3 separate regions of the Homo sapiens genome follow, and regions 1 and 2 are each reported to be linked to region 3. Evidence: microRNA targets listed by miRTarBase, many of them from high-throughput screens and not tested one by one. Region 3 holds a microRNA gene; each other region holds the end of a gene's coding sequence.
The links. The annotated mature microRNA hsa-miR-6760-5p reads CAGGGAGAAGGUGGAAGUGCAGA and lies in region 3 at 2,398-2,420, shown strand. An mRNA with a match to its seed (bases 2 to 7 or 8) in the 3' UTR can be bound and repressed. Matches are read on the target gene's strand: a 7mer-m8 pairs with bases 2 to 8, a 7mer-A1 pairs with bases 2 to 7 and ends in A, and an 8mer does both.

Region 1 (4,000 bases), not on the chromosome of region 3:
CCTGAGTGCGGGAAGGCCTTTCGGCGCAAGGAGCACCTGCGGCGCCACCGCGACACGCACCCCGGCAGCCCCGGCAGCCCCGGGCCCGCGCTGCGCCCTCTGCCCGCCCGTGAGAAGCCCCACGCGTGCTGCGAGTGTGGCAAGACCTTCTACTGGCGCGAGCACCTGGTGCGCCACCGCAAGACGCACTCGGGAGCGCGGCCCTTTGCCTGCTGGGAGTGTGGCAAGGGCTTCGGGCGCCGCGAGCACGTGCTGCGCCACCAGCGCATCCACGGCCGGGCAGCGGCCAGCGCGCAGGGGGCGGTAGCTCCGGGCCCGGATGGTGGAGGCCCCTTCCCGCCCTGGCCCTTGGGTTAGCCGCCTCCCGGCCAGCGCCATCTCCCGCCCTTGGTGCTGCCCCCGGGCGGTACCTGCTCTCTCCCAGCGCCACTTGGCCTCTTCCTCTCCTCCTTCCCTCCCATCGTCCTCCTCCACCTGCGCCTCCCTTGTCTGAACTTCCCAACGCCTTCCTATTCCTTTCCAACTCCTTTTCCCCCAAATTTCACTTTCCTTCTCAGGTCTCACCTCAGCCCCCCCCTTCTCCCTGATTTCTCGGCCTCTCTCTCTGTGTGAAGGGGCCTCTCCCTAATGTCTCCTCCTTCCCCCCTCTTCTCTCTCCTGCGGCCCAGCCTCCCTCTCCCTCCTCCATTCCTCTCTCCCTGCCCTTTTCCTGCCTGAAGAGCAGAGGTGAGGACCTGGGACCCCTGAGGGGCAGGCCAGGAGGAGCTCGGGCGCAGGCCAGGCCCCCTTGGTGAAGCAGAGGCTGAAGGAAAGGGGTCTGGGTCTTGTCCCTAGGAATTCTCCTCCCTCAGGAGATTGGGGGTTGGGGGAGGCAGCGGGTGATGGCTCTGAAGCTGAACCCAGGGCCTGGCTGTGGTCTTCTTGGTCTTGCTGCCCCCTGTGACCCAAAGGCATGGGATGGACAGAGATGCCTGCCCCCGTGAAGCTGGTTGGGGAGGGCAGTTCACCAGCATCCATAGAGTAATAAAGTCACTGTGTGTAGACCCGGAGTCTGAGCTCTGTCTGGAGTCTGTCCGGCACAGCCACCCTCCCAGGGCCGAGCGTCTGGGGTGCCCGGGGCTTCTGGGGTCAGCTGTCTTGGCTCCCACCACAGACTCTCTTGGCATGAGAGAGGCTCTGGGAGTCTGGGCACAGCTGTGGGAGGCAGTGCAGGAAATGTGTCCTCAGGAGGGCTGTCCCCACCTCCATCCTACGGAGGCAGGGATGAGGCTCCTGGAAGGGACCTGCCGAGTGCCACACTGAGTCAGGTTCGCATCTGAGCCCTTCAGCTTCCTGGCTGGGAACCTACAGGTTGGTCATACCCTCTGGGCATGAGTTCCACATCCGCAAGTGATGATAATGGCACCCACCTCCCTTGCTAAGGCCACTCTGTTTGACTGGGGTCCTGAGTGTCAGTGTTGGTAGGTCTTGGGTGGCCCATTCTGCCACGCAAGGAATTCTCTCACCTTTAGCTGGAGCCATTGGCCGAGGGGGGGACTCCGTATGGAGGGCAGGCTTTGGCCAGCTGCATCTTTCCAGGATGCCACCTCTTGTCAGCTCAGCGAGCAACCCCGGTTCCTTCTCTCCAGAGAGGAAATCTGTAGCCTCTGCCGGGTGGATGAAGGGCAGTTGCCGGGCTTTGGAAAGCGTAGGATGAGAGCGCTGGTCTGACCACTCCCCTGCCGCCCAGTCTTGGGGCTGGCTTCACCCTGGTCCTTTTGGTTCCTGTGTGCCCAGCGCCTGAGCCTGGGAGGGGTTCTATGTCAAACCCTCCATGGTTGCCGCCTTGTGGCTGAGCCCGCCACGGTACCACCTTGCGTCCAAGCCCCCCCACGGTCACTGCCTTGCTCTCTGCTTCAGCTTCTGGCTCAGTGTCAAGGGCTGGGGCAGGTACAGCCTGTGCCGGGCTGCGAGGGCATCTGGAAACAGCCACCTGGACGGTCCAGTGCACATCACTGGAGTCTAGGTCTGCCTTCAAGACTCAACAGTGCAGGGAAGGGTTTAGGTGCCAGGCTATCCAGGAAGGGCAAGTGACCACAGGCCTCAGCACCCACCTCCTAAGACAGGACTGGTAGTAATGCCCCTCCTGAAAAGGGACTGTTTTTGAAAATTAAATAAGGCTGGGTGCAGTGGCTCATACCTGTAATCGCAACACTTTAGGAGGCTCGGGTGGGTGGATCACTTGAGCTCAGGAGTTCAAGACCAGCTCGGCTAACATGCTGAAACCCCGACTCTACTGAAAACACAAAAATTAGCCAGGCATGATGGTGGACACCTGTAATCCCAGCTACTCCGGAGGCTGAGGTGGGAGGATCACTTGAACCCAGGAGGCAGAGGTTGCAGTGAGCTGAGATCGCACCACTGCCCTACTCCAGCCTGGGCAACAGAGCGAGACTTCGTCTCAAAAGAAAAATAAGGTAATGAATGCAGAATACTTACGGGAACTTGGTGTGTGATCTCAGCCTGCTGCTTTCACACTGACAGGTGCATGTTAAGGACGTTACCATGCCCACCGTGTGGGGAAGAAGACGGGCTGGGAGAAGCCGTGTCGTCTGCTGCAGACTTTCAGGAAGTGACTAAGAGGCATGAGAGGGAGTATGAGGTGGTGTCAGGCCAGGGTCTGAGGACAGGGTTCTGATAACAGCAAACACAGAGTGAGTCTGCTGGGCCAGACCTTTTTAAAATCCAGTTTGTTTATCATCATAACCAACCGATGAGGCATGCACTGTTGTTATCCCCATGGTACAGATGGGGAAACTGAGGCACCAAAAGAGTAAGGGACCGGGCCACATCTGTGGATCTCATCCCAGGTGTCTGGGCTCACAGTATTCACTCCAGCTCCTAACAGCACAGCTGCTGCTTTTGCCCATTCAGGCTCCATCTCTTCTCTTCTGAAAAGCCTCCCGGGACTTCTGTGCCCCTTTGGGGACCCCTCCAACACACACACACACACACACACACACACACACACACCCCGTGTCTGGTCTCGGAGGGACAGTCGGCCAGGCTGTCCTGCCCCACTCTTTTGTGTCACTCAAGATGGACAGTCCCGGATGGATTGGAGGATGCTGGAAGAACACCCCTGCAAAGGACTAGAAACAAGGCGAGACCAGATAGATGGAGATCTGACTCCCGCACCCTCCTGCACCCACACCTGCTAAGCCTGGGGGAGCTTTGGTTTGACATCCGATGACGAGTGGTGTCTGCCTCCGAGGCTGTATAACGGAGTGGAGGATGATCCCCCCCAAACAGGAGGGAAATTCTGGAAGGCCGAAACAAAACTTGAATATTCTCCGCATGGGCAACAGAAAACTTTCCAGAGAGACAACCTAGCAGTCCTTCCTCAGAGTGGGCGGTACTTCCACGAGAGTGCGCAGCCTTTCCTCAGACTGCGCAGTCCTTCCTCAGAGTGCACGGTCCTTCCTCAGAGTGGGCGGTACTTCCACAAGAGTGCTCAGCCCTTCCTCAGACTGCGCAGTCCTTCCTCAGAGTGCACAGTCCTTTCTCGGAGTGTGCAGGCCCCAGCCAGACAGACTGGCACAGGTGCATCCGCAGAAGGTCCTGCATAGCGCTGTTCCTCATGGTGCTGCTTGGGATGGCAGAGAATCAGAGCAACGTAAATGTCCGTTACTAGGAGAGGGGGAACGAAGAAACATTGTTCAGGAAAAGTACCGAAACGTGGAAGTAGGCAAAATGTCAATTGTGCAGCCTTCTAAAATCATGCTCAATTGTCTTAAAAATAGTCCTGCCTGGGCCGGGCACTGTAATCCCAGCACTTTGGGAGGCCGAGGTGGGTGCATCACTTGAGGTCAGGAGCTCGAGACCATCCTGGTTAACATGGTGAAACCCCTTCTCTACTAAAAAAAAAATACAAAAATTAGCCGGGTGTGGTGGCGAGCACCTGTAATCCCAGCTACTTGGGAGGCTGAGGCAGGAAGATGGCTTGAACCTGGGAGGTGGA
Region 2 (4,000 bases), not on the chromosome of region 3:
TTGAGCTTATCTGGCTGTCTGCTGCCAGCATATTGAACGCAAGGTCAGAGAGACAGAAGATGTCTTCACTAAGCAGTTAATATAATGACTTTAACACAGAAAGTTTCCAGTTACACAGTCAAGAGTGAGTTAGGCACTTTAAGCTACCCAGGACCTCAAATCAGAGCTCTTTCAAACTTGCTTTTGGGGGATAAATCAAGGTTAAGAAAAGTAATTAGGGGAAGACCTCTCATAAAGACCATGGCAGAGGCTCCCCATAACCTGGGCTTCCCCTACCCCCATCACAACCATCAAAGCATAATGTCCAACGTTGTATAAACGTTCACAAAAATGCAGAGATGATGTGTACTAGCTATCTAATACATTGCTGTGTAACAAATGACCCCAAAAATGTAGCAGCCTAAAGCAGTAAACATTTATTATCCACATTTCTATGGGTCAAGAATCCAGGAACAGCTTAGCTGAGTGGTTCTGGCTTGGGTCTCACGGGATTACAGTCAATGTGAGCTGGGTGCAGTCACTTGCAGCTGAGGCTCACCTCCGCGCTCACTTACGTGGCTGTCGGCAGGCCTCAGCTCCTTGCTGTCTGCTGGCCAGAAACATCCGTGTGTGGCCAGTGGGCCTCTCATGGGCTGTGTATCCTCACAACATGGCAGCCGGCTTGCCCAGGAAGAATGGTCCAAGAGAAAGCCCAAGACAGAAACCTAGTCTATTTTTTAATTGCTTCAACAATTTATTCATTCAAGAGATGGAACAAATAAATCCATTTCAGAGAAAATGGACTGAGGGTCAAAACTGGGTACAGGTCAAGGAAAAGGCAGATGTAGCTTACACTACTTTCCTATGTGTATAAAAGAAACTGATCTTTTATAACCTATTCTCAGAGGTGACATACCAACCCTTCATCTATACTCCACTGGCCACAACCAGTGGTATAACACAGGAGACTACACACAAGCCATATGAATACCAGGAGCGATCACTGTCTTGGAGGCTGGCTACTGACGGTCCTGATTATCTGGCTTAATTCCTGAGTTATATATAGGACTGAGTGTGAGTCTTTACCACACACATTCTCAGAGTTCTCAGAGCCTGGGCCTCACTCATTTCTTCTCATTTCCCTTTTAGGTCCCACGATGAAACTGAAACGGCTCACAGTTTTGGAGAAGTACAAAGGTATCATTGACTCCTTTTACCAAGAGCAAAAAATGTAATCAGGGCCTATGCCTGCAGTTTCTATAGAATAGAGGGCAGGCGTTCCGAGCCTCTTCCTGAGCCCCAGGTCTCTTCAGTCTGGGCACAGGCATTTCTGCCAAGTCTGTTAGATCTCCAGGTCAGGGCACAGCACTGGCTCTACATTTACCAGGTCTTACGCCAACAATAGCTGACAATTCCAAGAAGCTTCACGTGTGGGTAGTTTTAATTCAGTTTAAGTATTGCTTTTTGTTCAGGTGACAAATGAGATCAGCTCTCCTTCCAGAACGAAAGGGCTGATAATTTTTGGCCTTAGTTCCAGGTAGATTAAAAAGCTGCTAGCTCACATACAGGACAGCCAGCAGTAGGCTGTGGAGCGGGTAGGAGAGAGATGGCTGATACTGCTCACGTGCGCTGCAGGAAAAGCAATCAGTCACAACTCACCTAGCGACCTGACTTACTCTGGAATCTTGGCGGGCATCGCCGACCCTATTATTCCATTACCAGGCACTCCGCCACCCACATGCCAACTGACTTGATGCTTAATAAAACTGCTGCTGCCTGTTTGATTCTATTTAATGTATAATTTGAATATTAAACCTTTTAACAGAACTGTCAACAAGGACCTGATTTTTTTTGTCAATTGAGCAGGTGGGACCAGTGCAGAGAGTAGTGGGCATTTAACTCACAGGACTGTGCACAGCGGGCATGCGAGTGACCATTAGTGCCCTGGAATAAACAAAGGTGCAGGATGGGGTCAAGTGGCGCATTCTCATAAAAGCAGCCAGCTCTACGTTAGCCTGTCGCCACCAGACCACCCCACTTCCATTCTGAATACGGGAAGCAGCCATTCTCAGTAGCAAGCTGAGCCAAAATGACCGAAGGCATCTGAACAGGAAACAGGTAGAGAAAGCAAACATCTCAGTTTTGGAATTCTTTATTACTTTGAACCCAAGAGCCACTGATAACTGGCACAATCCAATGAAACAGAGGAAGCAGCAGCTTAAACAAAGGAAAATACATTTAAGATTATAAGTCTGGGGGGGCGGTTACAAGCTTAAAAAGTGACCCAGACAGGGATATCATTGCTAAAAAAAAAAAAATCCCCTTGTGACCTGGGTACATTTTGCAAAGCCACAGGTTTGCAATGTTACACAAGGGCCAAAGGAGGCCATGAGTTGTCTTTGGTTGTGGGGACAGAGGGTAACTGTTCATGAAAATAGTGAGTGTCTGAAGATTAAGAAAATCATGCTGCAGCAGAGGAGAAGGGAGAGGAAGACAGGAAGGGAAAGGAGATGCCTGAGGGTCAAAAGCTGAGCCCAAGCCTAAGCCCAAGCTCAAGCTCAAGCCCCAGCATGGCATAATTTTGTGAATTAACTCAGGCTGAGTTGCCTCCAGTCTTTGGAATGTCATCTTATACTGGTACTGCTGAGGCAGAGGGCAGTAATTGGTGCTTTGGGATAGGAGAAGGGGCAGTTGCTGAAATACAAAATTAATAGCATCCCAAGTTCCTCAATTGCAGCCAAAATACATGTGTTCGGGCCTTTCGGCAGTATCGCCCCCAGAACTACCTGCTGTAGTGTGGTCCATTCCCAGACAGCAACATGCAAGAATAAGTTTACAATACACTCAGCCCTTCTGGCTTCAGATCAGGGGCTCAGAGGCTGTGACAACTCATGATGCTGAAAATGTATCCAGTGAAAATGAAGTACTAGCTCTCTGCTTCATTAAAAGCTCTTGGAAAGAATATTAAATCTCAAGACAACAAAATAATTGAACACACAATACATTTGTGTCTTTGTATCCAATATATTACCTTTGTCTTATTAACAAAAATTATATCTCTCATTATATATTTCTTGGATCTGAAGTTTTTATTCACACTCAGTAATTTCTGTAAAGGACAAATCTGTCTCTATTTTCCATATCATTTAGAAATATACCACATTCACTCTTTTTGATGTGAACTTTCCCAGGAAAATTCTCTTGTGCCCATTTAGTTTTAGAAGAGTGTCATTTTGTGCTATTATGTCAATATCCTGTTTTATTTCCATTATGTTTTTCAAAAACCGAAGAAAATAAGGTTTTTCTTAAAAAGTTAGACATTTTCTCTTGTTAATTCTGTATCCTGTTATTTACAGCTGAAGAGAAACTATTTTAACTTAAGTGTAAAATGGTTTAGAATAGCAAATGATACAGTCCACTCAGAGTTTACAAAAAAAACATTTACCAGGTAGACACTTAATAAATAAAACAAGCACTTGGAAAAAGTTCTTTGAAAACAGACCTAGGGACATCCACCTGCATCTTTTGCACAGATTTTGTTAAGAAAAGGCCAGATCTAAAAATGTACTGTCAAGAAACAAGCAAACCAATGCATACATACGTAGGTATTCTAAACAGAGGTTCATGTGGTGTCCATTTAGAGTGACTGATGTAAATGCCAGTTGTAGAAGTGTTAATCTAAATCTTTTACTCGGCGACAGATTTCCTCTGTGAAGTCTGAGCATTTTGCATTGCCTCCCAAATCTTTTGTCAAGCTCTGAGAAAAGGAAAAAGCAAAAATAAAAGATGTATCCGCAAACTAAACTAAACCAAGGAGATTTTAAAGCCCTCAGTGAGATGCCACCTGGGCAAGTTACTCGGCTGCTCTTTCATTTAGTTCCTCATTTCAAAGTGAGGAACCACTCCACCACCATCTACCCAGCCCAGGAGGATCGGGATCCAATCTCATAGTGTATACAACAGCACTCTGCAAAGAATAAGGTGCTCTTGATGCAAAGGGAGGCAGGGAGCTTTACCAAAA
Region 3 (4,148 bases):
CACAGTCCTGGAATTATAGGCATGAGCCACCATGCCCAGCCCCAGCTAATTGCTTTAAAACCCAGCTTTACTGTTCAGGGGCTGTCTCCATGATGTGGGTCTCACCCACCCTTGATGTCTAAACACATAAACCTCCAGGGAAGGAAACCTCTGGGGTTCTCAGTAGCTAATCAGCCATGAGTTGAATTTTCAAGGCTTGTCCTTTAGTCCAGATCTCAGCTTTCAATCAGATATGCTCAGGGTTCCCTAACTGTACAGAAACATAAAAATATTTCCTTTACAGTCCCACATACCAGGAAACTCTTCCCAAAACAAAATTGACTTGAACCATTTCTGGAACAAGGCAAGATACGTATAAATAAATAATAAATTCAAATGTGAACATGAATGTGTATGGGTCTCAATATGCATACATTGGGCATAGCATCCTGATTGTCCAGGTCATTATGTAGTTAAACATAATCACTATGACCTGCATTACCAGCCAAAGGCAAAAATACAGCCACAGCTCTTTTAATTCTCTAAGTAATGGCTCAAGTAATATACCCTCATGATGTTAACAAAGTTAACCAATTATTGATGCATTTATATGTGCCAGGCACCAAGCAAAGATATCTACCAAATTGCATTTGGCCAAACCACTTCATTTGCAGAACAACCCTATGAGATAGTTGCCTTTATAATCCCCATTTTATTAATAGGGAAACCGAGGCTGGGGAGATGAAGCCTCTTGCCTAAGATCGCATAACCGGAAAGTTGCAAAGTCAGAATGTGAGCCCAGATTTCTCTCCAAAGCCACAAGATTAAATGTATTAACATTTGAATGCTTCCTTCCAGGTAGAAATTTTTTAAGAATTAAGATCTACCAGCTGGGTGTGGTGGCTCATGCCTGTAATCCCAGCACTTTTGGGAGGCTGAGGTGGGTGGATTGCTTAAGCCCAGGAGTTAGAGACCAGCCTGGCCAACATGGAAAAACCCCGTCTCTACTAAAGATACAAAAAGTAGACAGACCTGGCATCACACACCTGTAATCCCAGCTACTCAGGAGGCTGAGGCAGGAGAATTGCTTGAACCCAGGAGGTGGAGGTTGCAGTGAGCCAAGATTGTGCCACTGCACTCCAGCCTGGGCAACAAAGCAAGACTCTGTCTTAAAAAAAAAAAAAAAAAAAGAAAAGAAAAAGAAATCTACCAGCTGGGCACAGTAGCTCATGCCTGTAATCCCAGCACTTTGGGAAGCCAAGGCAAGTGGGTTACTTGAACCCAGGAGTTCAAGACCAGCCTAGCCAACATGGCAAAACCCGTCTCTATTAAAACTACAAAAATTAACCCGTCATGGTAGTGCACACCTGTAATCCCAGTTACTCAGGAGGCTGAGATGGGAGGATCAATTGATCCCGGGAGTTGGAGGTTGCTGTGAGCCCTGATTGCACCACTGCACTCCAGCCTGGGTGACAGAGCGAGACCCTGTCTCGAAAAAAAAAAAAAAAAAAAAAAAAAATCGACCATAGACCCAGTTTAGTGAACTGCTGCATTCTGATTTTAACCACTCAAAACCTCTTTGTGTTAGATGTTTTCATTGCTCCCCATTTCAAAAAGAGAAACTGAGCTGGGCACGATGGCTCACTCCTGTAATCCCAGCACTTTGGGAGGCTGAAGCGGGTGGATCACCTGAGGTCAGGAGTTCAAGACCAGCCTGGCCAACATGGTGAAACCCCACCTCTACTAAAAATACAAAAAATAGCTGGGTGTGGTGGTGTGCACTTGTAATCCCAGCTACTTGGGAGGCTGAGGCAGGAAAATCTCGTGAACCCAGGAGGGGCAGCTTGCAGTGAGCCACGATTGTGCCACTGCACTCCAGCCTGGGTGACAAGAGTGAGACTCCATCTCAAAAAAAAAAAAAAGAAAAGAAAAGAAACTGAGACCCAGGGAGAGGAAGTGACTTGCCCAGGGGCTGCAATAACCTGTGGCCTGGGAAAGCACCTTTGCAGATGCCGTGTCTGGGACTCATTCCATACCAGGTGGCATGAGAGTTGGAACAGCTCTTGCCTTCAGACTAGCCAGGCCTGAAGTTAATGTGGCAGACAGAAGTATCTAGAAATGTGTGAAAACCTGCCAGTCCCACCCAGAGAGCCTCTCTCATCCTGCCTTCATAGAGCAGGAATGTTCTGACTCCTCTGGGGGTCCCAGGCACCCCACGAGAACCCAGAACCTCCTCAGAGGGGCATTTCTTCCTGTCCTCTCAGCTCAGGAGTAACCCCAGAGGCTGCTATTTCTTGTCCCCAGCCCAGACAGGGCTCTGTGACTGGTCTTCATAGCTCCAGGACAGGGTCCGGGACTAGGAAGGCAGGACCTGAGGCCCTCGGAGGTCTGCCTCCCCAACCCCTGCCTGAAACAGTGCAGGGAGAAGGTGGAAGTGCAGAGTGGGCTCACCTCTCGCCCACACTGTCCCCTTCTCCCCAGCGAGCTGAGGCTGCCCAGCGGGAGGTGGAAAGTCTCCGGGAACAGCTGGCCTCTGTCAACAGCTCCATCCGCCTGGCTTGCTGCTCTCCCCAGGGGCCCAGTGGGGTAAGGATGGGGTTGGGGAAGTGAGCAGGGAGGGCAGAGGGAAAGATCGGGAATGGCTGAGTTTGCAGGTTTCAGCATGTGGGTGACACTTTGTGGTTGATTGTGTGCATCCATTTGAAACTGGGAGTGTGAATGTGTGTGGGTCTCTGTGCATACGGTGAGCATAATCACTATGACCTGCTACACCAGCTGAGGATAAAAATACAGCTACAGTTCTTTACTTTTCAAGCCCACGTTTCCATATACCCTTTATTACCAGGAGTTCCAGTATCTTCCTTTGGAGGCCTCCCTTATCCCCAATTATCCAAGAATGCCAGGAACTTCCTCAGACCAAAGATCATTCTGATTTCCAGATGCACCAGCAAAGACATGGGGGAGAGGGAGTTTGAGGCAATACAGCAGCATGCAGTTTTGGTGGCTGCCACCAGGTGTCGCTGTTGAACACCGGTCATAGCAGCTTTGTGCATGCTTGGGATGGTGATGCCCCTGCTGGTTTTCAGTCCCAAAACTGGGTACTTTTAGGAGTGTGAGCCAGCCAACATATCAACAGGCAGTCATCACCAGGACTGCAGTGGGGCCACATACCAAGATAAAATTTAACATTCATACTCAGCCATTGGTTTCCAAAGCATGCCAGGTGATTCTAGGGGGATTTCCCACCCCAGCCACATGCTATGAAGAGCCAGTCTTCGGTGATCAACCCTGAGGTTCTTGTGTTAGGCCTGATTAATCAATTCATCTTTCTCTTTCCTCCTGGTTTGTGCCTCTTTGGGGTCCTAGTGTCATTTCTTGACAAGAGACTTTCATCAAGGCCACCCCAACCTACCCTTCTGTCCTATATTAGCAGTCTCCATCCTGGCTCTCCCAGAGAGCCTTGGGTTCATTATGTGAATTGGTCTGCCTTATTTCCAGATCTCTACATACCAAGGGGTGAGATTCATGATTCCTTACATAATAACAGGTCTGCTCCAGGGTGACTTCCCTCTCCACCCATGAACCTGAACTTGCGAGCATAATTTTCACTTCACCTGACACCCACATATACAGGCCCAGGTGTCTATGTCTCTCTTTCTGTTTGAATATTGGAATGAGTCTCTATGAATGTGTTACTGTGTATGTGTGTCTCTACTTGTGACCTTTGGGCAACTGACTGTATTCTTAACCTGACTGTGCCTCAGTTTCCTCATCTGTACAATTAACATCTACTTTATAGGGTTATTAAAAGGATTACATGAGTCAGGCATGGTGGCACATGCCTGTAGTCCCAGCCTCTTAGGAGGCTGAGGCAGGAGGATCACTTGAGCCCAGGAGTTTGAGTCCAGCCTGGGCAATACAGCAAGATCCTGTCTCTGAAAAAAAAAATGGATTATGTGTAAAGTGCCTAAAATGGTGCTTGGGTCATTGTATATGCTCACTAAGTACTTGATGCTACTGTTATAATTGTTAATGTGTCTTTGGTGTGTCTGGGGTGTTTTTGCTCATGAGAGCATGTGGCTTCTTTGAGCACGCGCATGTCTGTTGTGTGTGATGATGTGTCCTTGTGAGTGTCTCTCTTTGATGCGTGTGTATTTGTGTGTGTGTGT

Region 1: miRTarBase lists ZNF444 as a target of hsa-miR-6760-5p. Seed matches in the 3' UTR shown: 7mer-m8 at 579-585, 8mer at 620-627, 7mer-m8 at 675-681 and 7mer-m8 at 694-700.
Region 2: the mRNA of IDH3A is a reported target of hsa-miR-6760-5p. Seed matches in the 3' UTR shown: 7mer-m8 at 2,461-2,467.

Annotation. Positions count from the first base shown.
Region 1 is chr19:56,159,845-56,163,844 of GRCh38, forward strand. It overlaps ZNF444 (zinc finger protein 444), which reads left to right. Exons shown (of 5, transcript NM_018337.4): 5 at 1-1,049. The coding sequence ends at 357. Among named protein-coding and RNA genes, the nearest start is that of GALP, 14 kb to the right of the region's middle. RefSeq lists an enhancer at 2,601-2,700.
Region 2 is chr15:78,168,658-78,172,657 of GRCh38, reverse strand. It overlaps IDH3A (isocitrate dehydrogenase (NAD(+)) 3 catalytic subunit alpha), which reads right to left. Exons shown (of 11, transcript NM_005530.3): 11 at 713-3,736. The coding sequence ends at 3,653. ACSBG1 (acyl-CoA synthetase bubblegum family member 1) reads left to right here. Exons shown (of 14, transcript NM_015162.5): 14 at 1,129-4,000. The coding sequence ends at 1,214. Among named protein-coding and RNA genes, the nearest start is that of IDH3A, 21 kb to the right of the region's middle.
Region 3 is chr12:111,301,750-111,305,897 of GRCh38, forward strand. MIR6760 (microRNA 6760) reads left to right here and starts at 2,393; the gene lies at 2,393-2,460. It overlaps CUX2 (cut like homeobox 2), which reads left to right. Exons shown (of 22, transcript NM_015267.4): 10 at 2,461-2,565. All of the region lies in intron 2 of LOC105369983 (a long non-coding RNA gene), which reads right to left.